3 linked regions of the Homo sapiens genome follow. The protein of the gene in region 1 purifies or fractionates together with the protein of each later gene. This does not show direct contact. Each region holds a gene or a part of one and is shown in the gene's direction. Other genes may lie near its edges.

Evidence for each region. Proteins that work in one complex are often made in the same cells at the same time.
Region 2: the proteins of KRT23 (region 1) and CEP250 purify together in Homo sapiens (affinity purification with mass spectrometry; one large-scale study listed by BioGRID and IntAct). This does not show direct contact.
Region 3: the proteins of KRT23 (region 1) and EXPH5 purify together in Homo sapiens (affinity purification with mass spectrometry; one large-scale study listed by BioGRID and IntAct). This does not show direct contact.

The regions. Positions count from the first base shown.
Region 1 is NC_000017.11:40,933,928-40,939,803, reverse strand, and holds the start of KRT23 (keratin, type I cytoskeletal 23), read left to right. Parts: upstream 1-2,157; 5' UTR 2,158-2,458; intron 2,459-2,533; exon of another isoform or gene 2,534-2,850; 5' UTR 2,851-3,200; coding exon 3,201-3,596; intron 3,597-5,876.
Region 2 is NC_000020.11:35,503,236-35,507,604, forward strand, and holds part of CEP250 (centrosome-associated protein CEP250), read left to right. Parts: coding exon 1-1,770; intron 1,771-4,369. UniProt on the Homo sapiens protein: Plays an important role in centrosome cohesion during interphase. Recruits CCDC102B to the proximal ends of centrioles. Maintains centrosome cohesion by forming intercentriolar linkages.
Region 3 is NC_000011.10:108,513,762-108,518,130, reverse strand, and holds part of EXPH5 (exophilin-5), read left to right. Parts: intron 1-407; exon of another isoform or gene 408-772; intron 773-2,761; exon of another isoform or gene 2,762-2,820; intron 2,821-3,255; coding exon 3,256-4,369. UniProt on the Homo sapiens protein: May act as Rab effector protein and play a role in vesicle trafficking.

The DNA.
Region 1 (5,876 bases):
CTGGCCAACATGGTAAAACCCCGTCTCTACTAAAAACTACAAAGATTAGCCGGGCGTGGTGGCACGCACCTGTGGTCCCGGCTACTCGGGAGGCTGAGGCAGAAGAATCGCTTGAACCCGGGAGGTGGAGGTTGCAGTGAGCCACGATCACATCACTGCACTCCAGCCTGGGCGACAGGGCGAGACTCTGTCTCAAAAAAAAAAAAAAGAAGTTATGGAAAATTGGCTGGGCAGGGTGGCTCATGCCTGTAATCCCAGCACTTTGGGAGGCCAAGGCAGGCAGATCATGAGGTCAGGAGTTCAAGACCAGCCTGGCCAACATGGTGAAACCCCGTCTCTACTAAAAATACAAAAAATTAGCTGGGCATGGTGGTGCGCACCTGTAATCCTAGCTACTCGGGAGGCTGAGGCAGGAGAATCGCTTGAACCCAGGAGGCGGAGGTTGCAGTGAGTCAAGATTGCGCCATTGCACTCCAGCCTGGGTGACAGAGCAAAACTCCATCTTGAGAAAAAAAAAAAAAGAAGTTATGGGAAACCATCATATAACAGTACTAGAAGAGACTATTTCTCCCCAGTGCTCTCAGATCTCACCACCAGTTTTTCCTGGCCCTGGTCCTGCTATGACACAAGAAATCTTTTGCTCAAGGATAAGTCCTATAAATCAAAACTCCCACACATGGACATAAAATGAGACAGTGGCCAAATCTATGGGGTTGATAAGTCACTGCCACTCAGACATGCCTGAAATAATTAGAGAAGCATTAATTTCATTGTAGATTCTGGTGAGAGAATTTAGAAAAAGGCAGTGCAGCCCGGCCCTTGCACATGCTAAAGGTAAATGTTTTCTTCCTTGGTAAGTCTGGGTCCAGGCGAACAGGAACCAGAGCTGACCATAACTTTGATGACCAGGAACCGTCCACATCCACAGAACACTGGTTGCCACCACTCGCCAAACAAGTCTCTCTAGTTCCCTCATTTGCTCTATTTTTATCACTTGTCTCTTTTGTCTTTTTCTCATATCTGAGATGTAAGTGACTGTCGGCACTCTTTCTAAGCACTCTCCAAGCTTCCCTGAGGCTTGGAGGCTCATTTTTCCAGCTCGTGCACAGTGAAATAAAAAATATTCAGAGACTCTTCCCTGATAAGGTTTTGTTGTAAGACTGGGAGGAGCAGAGCTGGTGTGCTTTTGGGTGGCTTTATTTGTAATTGGAAAAGATTGGCCTTCATGGATGGTTAATCTATACCCAGGAGAGGCGTTTTCCTACTTTCTAGTTCTATAACTCACAGTCCTAAAAGGAGCAGAAGTTGATGGCATCAGGAGACCTGTGTTAAAATCCTGACTCTAAAAAGTTTATGATTGAGTCAACATACATTTGCAAAATACCACCAAGAAACCAGACTTTGGTGCTCAAAAATGGAAGACATAAACTCTGCTTTCAAGAAGCCTGCGGTCTCAGAAGGGTGTGGCAAATGCAGTATAATGGAGTGAAAGAACGGAGTGGACTTCATCCCAGGCACAGGAGGTGGCTGCGCCTGGCTAGGGGCTCCCAGCTTCCACCATGAGGTGGGATGCCAAGGTGTCTGCCCCTCTGGAGGACCTCGGCATCCAGAAGAGGCAGTTTCCTCCTAGAGGGTCACCCAACTCATGCAGGAGAATTCAGAAAATGATTGTTGAAGGAGGTAGCCCTTGAACTATAGAAGAGGTAGGGGTGAGTGACTTTCCAGGCAGGGAGGACAGCACAGACTCGGGCAGTGTCACCTATGAATTCATGTGCTCAATTACACTGTACATGCGAATCAGCTCTGGATCATTCATCCCTATGAGACCCTGATTCTTTGTCTGCAAAATGAAGACAACAACCCTTGCCTGGATACATAAAGAGTTGTGAGGATTCAATAAAGAATATAAAAGAGCTACACCAATTGGCAAGTCCTATTATTATGAAAGAGAAGTGTGGTACAGGACCTGTCAAGATTCAACCCAAGATAACAGTGCTATGTGGAGAAAGAATCTAGCCCTGGCTCTGCCACTAACCTCCCCACCACCATAGGCCTCAGCTTTCCTCATCTGTCCAATTAGTGGCTTGGAACCAGAAAGGCCAGAAGCCCTTCCTGCGCTGATATTTTATTTGTAAGTCCCCTTTAAATCCAACTGCCAGTAACTAGCACGTGGCTCCCGCCCCCAGACTGCTTCTTTATTCATTCCTAACCTTTACCTTGGCAGATGAAATATAAGATTCATCAACCACATTTGACAGCCCATGGCAGGTTTCCTGTTTTCCATCGTCCCTCTGCAGGTCACAGACACACAGAGCCCAGCCGTGGCAGGCTCAGCCGGGGTCCGGGGCTGCTAACAACGGCTACATTCCTCCCCCAGGGCCAAGGGAAATCCTGAGCGCAGGCCAGGGTTGTTTGGTTTTGAGGTGTGCTGGGATGAAAGGCACCCTGGAAGTGGAAGGTTCGGTCATTCATTAATTAATTACATCTATAATTGAGGGTTTGTTCTTAAGAGCGAGTCCTTTGAAAGTACTTTCCTTCAAACAGTGACTGCCACAAAGGCATCAGATATTCACCACCTTCTCGGCTGCCTCAGCACAGCAAGCTTTATTCTGGGACCTGAGATCCTGTTCTGAGCTGGCTTTCCCTTCTCCAGGCTCGCTCACCCTCCCTTTAGAGGTGGGGCTTATTGGGGGTGGAAAAAGGTGTGTGTATCTCTGTTGTTTAATGTCTGGTTTTTTGTTGCTGTTGTTGTTGTTTTGTTTTGGTTTTGGTTTTTGGTTTTTTTTAAGGAAATCTATACTACATCGAATATGCTTTCTTTTGGGTGGACTTTAACCTAACCCATTCCAGGTAAATGAACAATGGAAAAACTTCACGGCAAGATTAGAAAGATACCTGAGCCCAATACCCGCCTGATGTCGTGGGCCACACCTCCGGGTTACCAGGGGAAGGGAGGAAGCAAACTGTCATATTGATGTGGCTCTAAACAACAACAGTGTGCGAAGGCCCAGGGGCACTTTGGGATTGACCAAGAGGAAACACAAGTTGCACAATGATACAATCTTGTTGGTACAATTGTCAGAGAAGGGAACTCCCACAGCAAAGGCCATAAAACCATCCAGGGCAGTCTGGGGCGGCTCAGTTCTGCGGTGCCAGGGAGTGGAGCAGAGCTCAGCCCCGTCCCAAACACAGATGGGACCATGAACTCCGGACACAGCTTCAGCCAGACCCCCTCGGCCTCCTTCCATGGCGCCGGAGGTGGCTGGGGCCGGCCCAGGAGCTTCCCCAGGGCTCCCACCGTCCATGGCGGTGCGGGGGGAGCCCGCATCTCCCTGTCCTTCACCACGCGGAGCTGCCCACCCCCTGGAGGGTCTTGGGGTTCTGGAAGAAGCAGCCCCCTACTAGGCGGAAATGGGAAGGCCACCATGCAGAATCTCAACGACCGCCTGGCCTCCTACCTGGAGAAGGTTCGCGCCCTGGAGGAGGCCAACATGAAGCTGGAAAGCCGCATCCTGAAATGGCACCAGCAGAGAGATCCTGGCAGTAAGAAAGATTATTCCCAGTATGAGGAAAACATCACACACCTGCAGGAGCAGGTAAGATGCTGGGTGACCCTGGAGATCCAGATGGGGCTGCTTTGCCAGGGGACCCTCGGGAGGAAAAATGAGTCCAGAAGACAATTTCCAGGAAAATGGCATCAGCGCTTGAAGTAATTGTGCACAAAGGTTTTGGGGGATGTTTTCTTATTATATCTTAAATTTGGAGTGGGAAACGTCTGTTTTGTTTAATTAGTCTACTGTCCATGGATAATGTAGAAAAAGAAGGCAGCAAAAATGATAGAAGTGCTACAGACTGTTTCAAAAATGAGACTACTGATTTCTCACAGACCAAAAACATCTTTAAAATGTGAGGCAACCAGCTGCTGTTTAATGTCACTTATGACCCAACGATGTCATAGAAATGATAAGGGCTGGTGTTCATGCTGCATGCTCAGTGCACCAGGCATAAGAGAGTGTTTACTTTCTCATTACCTCAGTTCTGCTCCACCTCAAACTTTTTTGAACAATGTGGTTATCCATCGACAAAAGGCTGTTACACTATTTTGAAGATTATGCCTAAAAGTTGTCACCACACCAGCATATAGGTCATCATGACATCCCTAGATATTTCCGTTTGTGGGTTGCTTGCAGTAAAGTTGCTCACAGTTCTGACAATGGCATATTGCTAGAACCAATAATAATAAAATGAGCATAATTTTTAGAATCTGAGAGTTGAGATGGCTATAAAGACCTTGTTCAAAAAAAACCGAACTCTTTAACCAAACCTCAAAAAAGCTAAGCAAATACCTTCTGGGATGTCTCATAACATTAGCTAGAAGTAGAAGGAATCCAATCATCTCATAGGTTATGTTTTAAAGCTATCTAACTCCCCTCTTATATAAAGCAGTCCCAGAAAATTCCCTGTAAGACCATGATTTAACCTCCCCTAGAAAGGGTATCACAAGTTTCCAATATTTATATATATTATTTCACAATGCTCAGTCATCCTTGCTTGAATGTAGGAAGGACCAGTCAAGATAATATAAATCTGTCCTTGTAATGAACCCTAATTATTGAATAATCAACCTAATAACTGACTGTAATTACCTTAACTATATAGTGCATGGTTGTCTTTATGAAAAAAAAAAAAAAACAAGGTGACTCAACAGTCCTCATCATGTTTTTTTGTTTAATAAAGTTGCTTTGGTTGTAGAAAGGAGGAATTGAAGATTTTTGCAAATGGAGAGCAAAGGGAGACCATGACTCCCAAAAGAAATACAAGGTTAGAACCAGTCAAATAATTTATGAGCTCGCGGAAGAGATTTAAAAAAAAGAAAGGGAGGAAAGAGAGGGAAATGTTTACTGAGCACTTATTATGTACCTAGGCATCCTGCTGGATATTTAATACACATGTCAACACTATCCAAGAGTTTTCTGCAATGATGGAAATGTTCCATATTATTTTATTTGATTCTGCAAGAACCCTGTAAGGAAATGGAAGCTTGGAAAAAAGTGAAATAGCCATCCAAAGCCATCAGCAAGAAGCAGAGGTGGGATTCTAACTCAGGTCTGTTTCCAGTAGCCTCATAAATTTCACTACAGTGTAGTGCTGCCTAGCCCACCTCATATAAAAATGACACTTAGTATGAATAAAGATAATGCATTATACTTGCATCATTAACCACACATCACATACTTCATACACATTGTCTCATTTAATCCTCACAACTGTGTGGAGCAGGTATTTGTATTCTCAACTTACAGATAAGGAGACTGAGACCTAATCATTGTCTAAATCCTTTGGAACAGAATTGAGAAAAGTGAGTAGGTGCAATGGGGGGTGTGGGGAGCAACCTGCCCACCCTTCAGATGACCTGGAATTCTGGGTTCTGAGATTGAATAGGAAACTTCTTTGGCTTTGAATTTCACTCTTTTCTGGATTTTTACCTCTAACATTGTGTTTTCTCTACACTTGAAGAAAGAAACTCTTTAAAGTTGAGGTTGTCTATCTACCCCAACCTCCCTCATTTGAAGATGAGAAAACAGAGGTGCAAGGAGGTCCCACAATTACCTGGGGCTTATCCTTCCTGGACCTTGGTGAAATGCTCTGAGTGGATACAGTTCTCCCGTACCCTCACTTTAGGTATATTAAATATCACTCAAAAGGTTGATAACAAGTTGAGCTTAAAAATTAATTCAATCCTTTTGAAATCCAGAATTGGACACAGTCATAGGAGTATCATAAATAAAACACCTTGAATGATTCTCAATCGGACTATATTTGGCATTTTTGTTTACAGTCAAACATTCTGTTTTCCTCTCCCTAGTAGATCAAAC
Region 2 (4,369 bases), on another chromosome or scaffold:
AGAGAGCTGCAGGAGAGGGACCAGGAGGTGAAGTCTCAGCGAGAACAGATCGAGGAGCTGCAGAGGCAGAAAGAGCATCTGACTCAGGATCTCGAGAGGAGAGACCAGGAGCTGATGCTGCAGAAGGAGAGGATTCAGGTTCTCGAGGATCAGAGGACCCGGCAGACCAAGATCCTGGAGGAGGACCTGGAACAGATCAAGCTGTCCTTGAGAGAGCGAGGCCGGGAGCTGACCACTCAGAGGCAGCTGATGCAGGAACGGGCAGAGGAAGGGAAGGGCCCAAGTAAAGCACAGCGCGGGAGCCTAGAGCACATGAAGCTGATCCTGCGTGATAAGGAGAAGGAGGTGGAATGTCAGCAGGAGCATATCCATGAACTCCAGGAGCTCAAAGACCAGCTGGAGCAGCAGCTCCAGGGCCTGCACAGGAAGGTAGGTGAGACCAGCCTCCTCCTGTCCCAGCGAGAGCAGGAAATAGTGGTCCTGCAGCAGCAACTGCAGGAAGCCAGGGAACAAGGGGAGCTGAAGGAGCAGTCACTTCAGAGTCAACTGGATGAGGCCCAGAGAGCCCTAGCCCAGAGGGACCAGGAACTGGAGGCTCTGCAGCAAGAACAGCAGCAGGCCCAGGGACAGGAGGAGAGGGTGAAGGAAAAGGCAGACGCCCTCCAGGGAGCTCTGGAGCAAGCCCATATGACACTGAAGGAGCGTCATGGAGAGCTTCAGGACCACAAGGAACAGGCACGAAGGCTGGAGGAAGAGCTGGCAGTGGAGGGACGGCGGGTCCAGGCCCTGGAGGAGGTGCTGGGAGACCTAAGGGCTGAGTCTCGGGAACAGGAGAAAGCTCTGTTGGCCCTCCAGCAGCAGTGTGCTGAGCAGGCACAGGAGCATGAGGTGGAGACCAGGGCCCTGCAGGACAGCTGGCTGCAGGCCCAGGCAGTGCTCAAGGAACGGGACCAGGAGCTGGAAGCTCTGCGGGCAGAAAGTCAGTCCTCCCGGCATCAGGAGGAGGCTGCCCGGGCCCGGGCTGAGGCTCTGCAGGAGGCCCTTGGCAAGGCTCATGCTGCCCTGCAGGGGAAAGAGCAGCATCTCCTCGAGCAGGCAGAATTGAGCCGCAGTCTGGAGGCCAGCACTGCAACCCTGCAAGCCTCCCTGGATGCCTGCCAGGCACACAGTCGGCAGCTGGAGGAGGCTCTGAGGATACAAGAAGGTGAGATCCAGGACCAGGATCTCCGATACCAGGAGGATGTGCAGCAGCTGCAGCAGGCACTTGCCCAGAGGGATGAAGAGCTGAGACATCAGCAGGAACGGGAGCAGCTGCTGGAGAAGTCTCTGGCCCAGAGGGTCCAAGAGAATATGATCCAAGAGAAGCAGAATCTGGGGCAAGAGAGAGAAGAGGAGGAGATAAGGGGCCTTCATCAGAGTGTAAGGGAGCTACAGCTGACTCTAGCCCAAAAGGAACAGGAGATTCTGGAGCTGAGGGAGACCCAGCAAAGGAACAACCTGGAAGCCTTACCCCACAGCCACAAAACCTCCCCAATGGAGGAACAATCTCTAAAACTTGATTCTTTAGAGCCCAGGCTGCAGCGGGAGCTGGAGCGGCTACAGGCAGCCCTGAGACAGACAGAAGCCAGGGAGATTGAGTGGAGGGAGAAGGCCCAGGACTTGGCACTCTCCCTAGCGCAGACCAAGGCCAGTGTCAGCAGTCTGCAGGAGGTAGCCATGTTCCTACAAGCCTCTGTCCTGGAGCGGGACTCAGAACAGCAAAGGCTGCAGGTAAGTCACTCCATGGGGAGTAAGGGCCAGGGGACACACCCCTGTCTGGCTGAGCTCAGGGACTGCCCACCACCCTGGGCCCTGTGGCACCTCAGGGGTATGAGAAAGCTGAGATCATGAGCACCTCAACATCGGTGGGATTCAGGCTACTGTGCTAGTCGGGAGATACAGAGAGGATAAGAACCCCACAGTCCCTGCCCTCACAGAGTTCACAGTCTAGTGGGTAAACAACGATAATGCAGTGTGGTTGGTGCCTAATGGGGGAAGTTTAGTATGCCCCAGGCATGCTGGAGGGATGCCCACCCTTTCCTGGGAGTGGGTCCTGAAAGGCTTTCTGGTAAAAGTGGTGTTTAAGATTAGACCTGGGCCAGGCACGGTGGCTCACGCCGGTAATCCCAGCACTTTGGGAAGCCGAGGCGGGCAGATCACTTGAGGTCAGGAGTTCGAGACCAGTCTGGCCAACATGGTGAAACCCCGTCTCTACTAAAAATACAAAAATTAGCCAGGTATGCTGGCATGTGCCTGTGATCCCAGCTACTTGGGAGTCTGAGGCAGGAGAATTGCTTGAACTCAGGAGGCGGAGGTTGCAGTGAGCCGAGATCGCACCATTGCACTCGAGCCTGGGCAAAGAAACGAGACTCCATCTCAAAAAAAAAAAAAAAAAAATAGACGTGAAGGGACCAGTAAGGAACTAGCCAAGCACAGGTTGAGGAGGAGCATTCACGGGAAGAGGAAAAGAGGGCGAGAACAAGTGTAGTATCTGTGTAGATGGTTCAGGTTGCATGGGACAGAGGGAGGATTTGGGAAGAGACCGGAAGACAGCAGGGGCCACACCTGTCAGGGCTTACAAGTCATGCTGAGGACCTGGGTGGTGGGAAGCAGATGAAGTTTTTGCAGCAGGGGAGTGATGTGATCAGACATACAGCTCACAAAGATTGCTCAGGCTGCCGTGTGGAGCAACAGCATGTCTGGAGAGACCCACTGGGAGGCTGTACTGGGAAGTCCAGGGGAGAGCTTGTGCCCTAAGATGGAAAGTGTGAATGGAGACATGTGGGTGGGTCTGAGAGGTAGGACTTGATTGGCTAAGAGGTGGGAGGAATAAAGAGAGGGCAGAAAGAAGTCAAAGATGACACTCAGGTTCCTGTTCATGAAGATGAAGAGAAGCAGGTGTGAGAAAGAGGAGTGGAATGAATGATGAGGTCAGTTTGGAAATGGAGGGAGGAGCCTGTTGGCAGGTCAGTAAAATGATCTGAAGCTGAAGGATGGAGTTGAAGCCAGAGACACTTTGGAGTCATCAGCAGTTAGAACAAATGGGTTTCTTGTAGGCAGAATGTTGAGTGAGAGAGGAAGTGGGCTTAGGAGAGGACTTCAGGGTGTATTATTTAACCTCAAGGTCAAGCACCGTGTCTTAGTCACCTTTGTACCCCCGGTACTGAGCACAAGACCTGCAGAGAGCAGGCAAACAGGAAAGCCAAGTTGGCTCAAGAGAGAGAGGCATCATCTCTTTTTCCAAAAGACGCCCAGTCCAATTTTCCAGGGAAATAGACTCTACATCCTGGTCCCTTGACTGGGCCCCAGAGAACCCCAGACACACAGTCCCCCAGAGAGTTCATTCTGGGAACTCACAAAGCTCTGCTCTTGGTGAAGGGCAATATGAGGAGAAGGAGGTCCATCTGTGAACTCCAAAGTTCACAGGGTTTGAAATACAGTAGTGCGGCTTATCAGCTGTGTAACCCCGGGTGAATGCCTTCACTCTGATCTTCAATTTCTCATCAGTAATATAGGCATTGGTGGTATGACATGGCATGATATGTATGAATTGCTTAGGAAGAAAGCACTAAGTGGACCTCCTTTCCTATGTTCAGGCCCATTCTTACAGGCACAGCAAAAGTAAGTTATGTAATTGGGCAGGAGGGCACTTCCCACCCATACTCTTGGGTTACTGAGCAGTATTCACTCAATAACATAACTCTGGTCAGAGTCACTTCACCCACTGCCACCTCCAAACACACAGGGTGAGACTCTTGTCTCAAAAAAACAAACTCATAAATGGCAGGACTGGAATGAGGTCTGAGTCATCTGCCTCTAGAGCGCAGGCTTTCTGTCACCAAGCTCTTCCTCTCTCCCAGGCAACCCACATCCACCTGCGTACACTTGTTTTCTCTTGTTCATCTCTTCTTGACTGTTATCATTTATGAACCACAGGGCACCTAGAAAGTATCTAGCATGAGGCTTCCCCATTTATCCAAAGGGACTTAACCTAAGGACTTGATCCATGTTTCATGGTGCATGTAGTCGTTTTATAAATGAGGAAATTGGGGTTTGGGGAGAGCTTGTGCTTTGACCAGAGTCATATAGCCACTGAGTGGCTATATGGGCCACTGGGTACGCCACAGGGCACCCAGCCCTGTGTGACTCGAGAGTCCATGCTGTTCCCACAGCACATCAGTGCTCTGAGTCATTGCTCAGCCTTCTAGGAGATGTGAAGTGAGCTGGGGGCTCTGATCCTAGCTTCCTTGCTAGCTCACCGCATATCCTTGAGAAGAGCCCCTCTGCTCCTTTGTTTTACCTATCTGTAAAATGAAGGTTCTGTACTAGA
Region 3 (4,369 bases), on another chromosome or scaffold:
TATTTTTTACATCCTCATGTTTAGCTTATTTGAAGAGGATGCTGATATGTTATTAACACAAGTATTAAGAATCTTATGATTAAATATAATCTAAGCAAATATTCTTGAATCATGGACTGATAAATATATGGAGTAGTAATAATGTTTAATATTTAACCTTAGGGGTCAGGAGTTTGAGACCCCATCTCTACTGAAAATACAAAAATTAGCTAGGCATGGTGGCACGCACCTGTAATCTCAGCTACTTGGGAGGCTGAGGCAGGAGAAGTGCTTGAACCTGGGAGGCGGAGGTTGCAATGAGCCGAGATCATGCCACTGCACTCCAGCCTGGGTGACAGAGCAAGCAGAAAAAAAAAATTAACCTCAGGTAAAAAGGAAATACATCTTTAGGAAATACATCTACAAAGTTTGCTGTTTAATAGACTTTTATTGTTCCAGATTAGGACCCAAATGCACTGTGATAAAATCTAATTGACATTAGACAATTAACCTTGTATGATGATAAAAACTGAGACAGGTTCCAAAAGCAGTGGCGTTCCAAATGCACATGTATCTTATTATATGATCATAGTTTACTTTTACAAAGGTTATTCTATATAAGCCCGGCCATTTGAAAAGTTAACTCTGAAGTCGCCACCAGCTTCACTTTGAGGAACTTCATTTAGTTTGCAAAGGCAATACCATCGCCTGGCCCATATTGTGTGGGACAGCAGTCGGGTAGAGACAGTCAGCTGGACAGTCAACGTAGGGGCCTTCTTCAGTAAGATGCTTCCTGGCAGAGAACAGAGGAAAATCTTTGTTCCAAAATGAAGGTTTTGTTGAAAGAGGAGAGCTACTGTTTATGGAATGAAAAAATAATGAAAAAATAATAATAATGTGGCCTTTCTGAAACTAATGTAGAGAAGCAGAACAGGAATTTTTCTGATGTCAGGAGTGATGAGTAAACAGCATTGTTAATCTGGGATTCTAAGTGGCTTTAATTTAAAATCTTGTCATGGGGATGTTAAGAATGGTTACCTCTAGGTAGAATTCCTGGCGATTTTACTTATATTGTTATACTTTTCTGTATTTTCTGTTCTAAATACATTCTGCTCTTGTAGTCAACCAAGACTTTAAGGGGAAAGAAAAACATAAACAGCTTGAAAGGGAGAATGGGTATCAAAGAGATTTTCATTATAATTTGTTTTAAAGATAGATTTTTATTCATTATGCAGTTGTTTTGTTTTGTTTTTTGCCCCACCTTATACTTCAGCATTGCTTGATTATTTTATTGTGGCTATAGGGAACAAATTACTTCAGGTCCTAGGGGTAAATAAATATTTTTCACTAAAACATTCACAGATAATTCCCTAAAAGAATTCCTTAATTACATATCCTTAATGTTCAAGATCAGTTTTTCTTTTGGTTGTACAAACTTAATAACACCAACTTGCAAATAAAATAGGATAGGGAAAAATCCAGAACAGATTTTTTTAAATCCCTTTAGCATCTGCCCTAACTTAATTGGCATGTTGCATGTACATTTCACTTATGTGTGCTCAGACACTTACATTTCCTGTCATTATACAGTTGAAATAAAATTTGTAATTTATTTGTATTTATTGAACATGAATATAGTAAACTATATCTATTATAGAGTGGGTCTTAGAGAGTCTACACACCTCAAAAGATTATGATTCTATTCAAAATCTAATGGGTTTTTATTGAGGAAAACATGTCAAGTACAATTAAATGGATACAATTCAAAGAAAAGCCAACTGTGTCACCAAAAGGATGCTGTGGCTTGTCTAAGATCACAGAGGCTGTGGTCCTAGAGAGCATGAGCCCTGGGTCTGGGCTTGGTCTAGGTCTTCAGTTATCGTAAGGGGGCCCCTGGGCACTGACTTTGACACCACTCCCTGACTTTGCTACCGAGAGAAAAGTCATCATTATTTGACAACAGCAACTTCACGTCTTTGTAAAACTATGAGCTCGTCTCACAGTAAAATCATCTGTATGGTTCATAAAGAGCAAAATATGAAAAGTGAGTTTTTTTTTCTGGTTTTTTTTTTTTTTTTTTGAGACGGAGTCTCGCTCTTTCGCCCAGGCTGGAGTGCAGTGGCGCCATCTTGGCTCACTGCAAGCTCTGCCTCCCGGGTTCACGCCATTCTCCTGCCTCAGCCTCCCGAGTAGCTGAGACTACAGGCGCCCGCCACCACGCCCGGCTAATTTTTTGTATTTTTAGTGGAGACGGGGTTTCACCATGTTAGCCAGGATGGTCTCAATCTCCTGACCTCGTGATCCGCCCGCCTCGGCCTCCCAAAGTGCTGGGATTACAGGCATGAGCCACCGTGCCCGGCCCAAAAGTGAGCTTTTATGGCACAGAGGTTGCATTGTACAGTGGTTGTATGCATGGATTCAGGAAACAGACTGTCTGGGTTCAAATCCCAGTGCTGTGTGATCTTAGGAATTTGCTTAATCTCTTCTTGCATCAGTTTCCTCATTATAGAATGAGAATAGTAATAGGACCAACCTTCTAAGTTTGTGTGACGACTTAGTGAGTTAATATATTAAGCGTTTAGGACTCTGCCTGACACATAGAAAGTGCTGTTTTATAGGAGTGTTAATGGGTATTAATTTTTCCAGAAAAAAAAATCTACCATTGGCATATCATTTAATAATATTATATATCCAACTAAGTATGTTCATAAATTAGGTGCTAAGCTTTTAGTGGTAATACTGTTTTCTTAACAGTACAACCTAGAAATCATATGCTACTTACAGAGGTTCATTTCTATTATGATCCCAGGAGGTATACACAGCTGGAATTATTGTAGCAACCTAGTGACATGAAAGAAACAGAAAGACAAGGCTTAATAATACTAACAATTGTCTAGTTATTCAATGTCTGCATTATTAATTCCATTTTATTACTGGTCCATATCTTAGAAAAACTCAATACACTTTAGATGCACTAAAAAAAAACATGATTAAAATTCATTGTTAGAAGAATATAGTTCAATTTCCTTACGGCGTTAATGGAAGGTTTACTTTGAAAAAAAGTGATTTGAAAAAGTAGGAAAGAAATTTTCACTATAGTCTTATAAAAGTCAGGCTATCTTAAAAATATAATCAAAATTAATGTTATAACATGATAATATGATAAAAATAAAATTATAAATGATTATGTTTCTTGAAAAGGAGCCTTCAATAACTCAAATTATTATTAAACTGTAAAAACATACAGAAAAAGGTTGATTCACATTCTCTTTTCAGTTTTAGATGACTTGGATAGCAAATTGGCTCAGGAACAGTCTGCAAGCTCAGTGAATACCAGAACACCCCTCAACTATGGATCAAGAACACAGTTCGGTCACTTTTATTCCAGTGGTAACAGACATGGTAATATCACAGAAAGGCACAAAAAACACTATAATGAAACTTCCAATATGTCTATCTATGACATCCTAAGACCAGGAACTCCTAGGGAAGGTTTTAAAACCTTTTCTCCTAGGACAAGCACAATTTATGATATGTATAGGACAAGGGAGCCCAGAGTCTTTAAAGAAGATTATGTGCAAAAGAATACTTTTGGCAGTACTTCGCTGTGTTTTGACAGCAGGCAACGGTCGGCCTTACCAGCCACAGGGCATTTCACAGCAAGAAGCTTACATTTTCCAGCCACAACTCAGAGCAAGAGTGGGTTTATACCACCAAGGCACCAGCAGAGTCCAAAGAGAACTCCTTTATCATCCATCATATGGAACAGATCAGATTCCTCTAGAGACAGGGAGAACCAGGAAGAGTTCCTGAGGGCACCATCACCAATGGAAATTGATCCCGCTGACAAGTATGTGTATCCCAGGGGTTTTCAGGAGAATAAGAGATATGAATCGTACCATTCACAGAATGTTTACCAACGTGTTAGTTTAAATGCTCCCATGGAGAATGCAATGAGTCCCGACACTTTTGAGAACTCAGAGAACATGCCATTCTACCATCAAAGCAACACATTTACCAGATCTTTCTTCAGCAATACCTTTGGACGAAGCGGAGAACAGAGGAGATTTGGACAAGGTCCTTTTTGGGGCCAAGAGAAAGGACATTCTTTCTGGTCTGACTTTCATCGAAGCAGGAAATCATTCAGTTCTTCTGACAGAGACTTTGAAATGATTTCCATGGAAGCAAATAGTGTATCAGCCATTCATGGCCATAATGTTTCTTCTGAACACTGGGAATCATTTTCTTCTGGTTATGGAACAGATGTTTCCAGAGGCCAAGAAGAGCCACATCCTTGGCAGTTTGATTTTCAGAGATCCACACTGGATAGCATGGTGGTATCACATGGTAATGAGACCCAGTTGACTCCTCATTTTGGCACACCAAATGT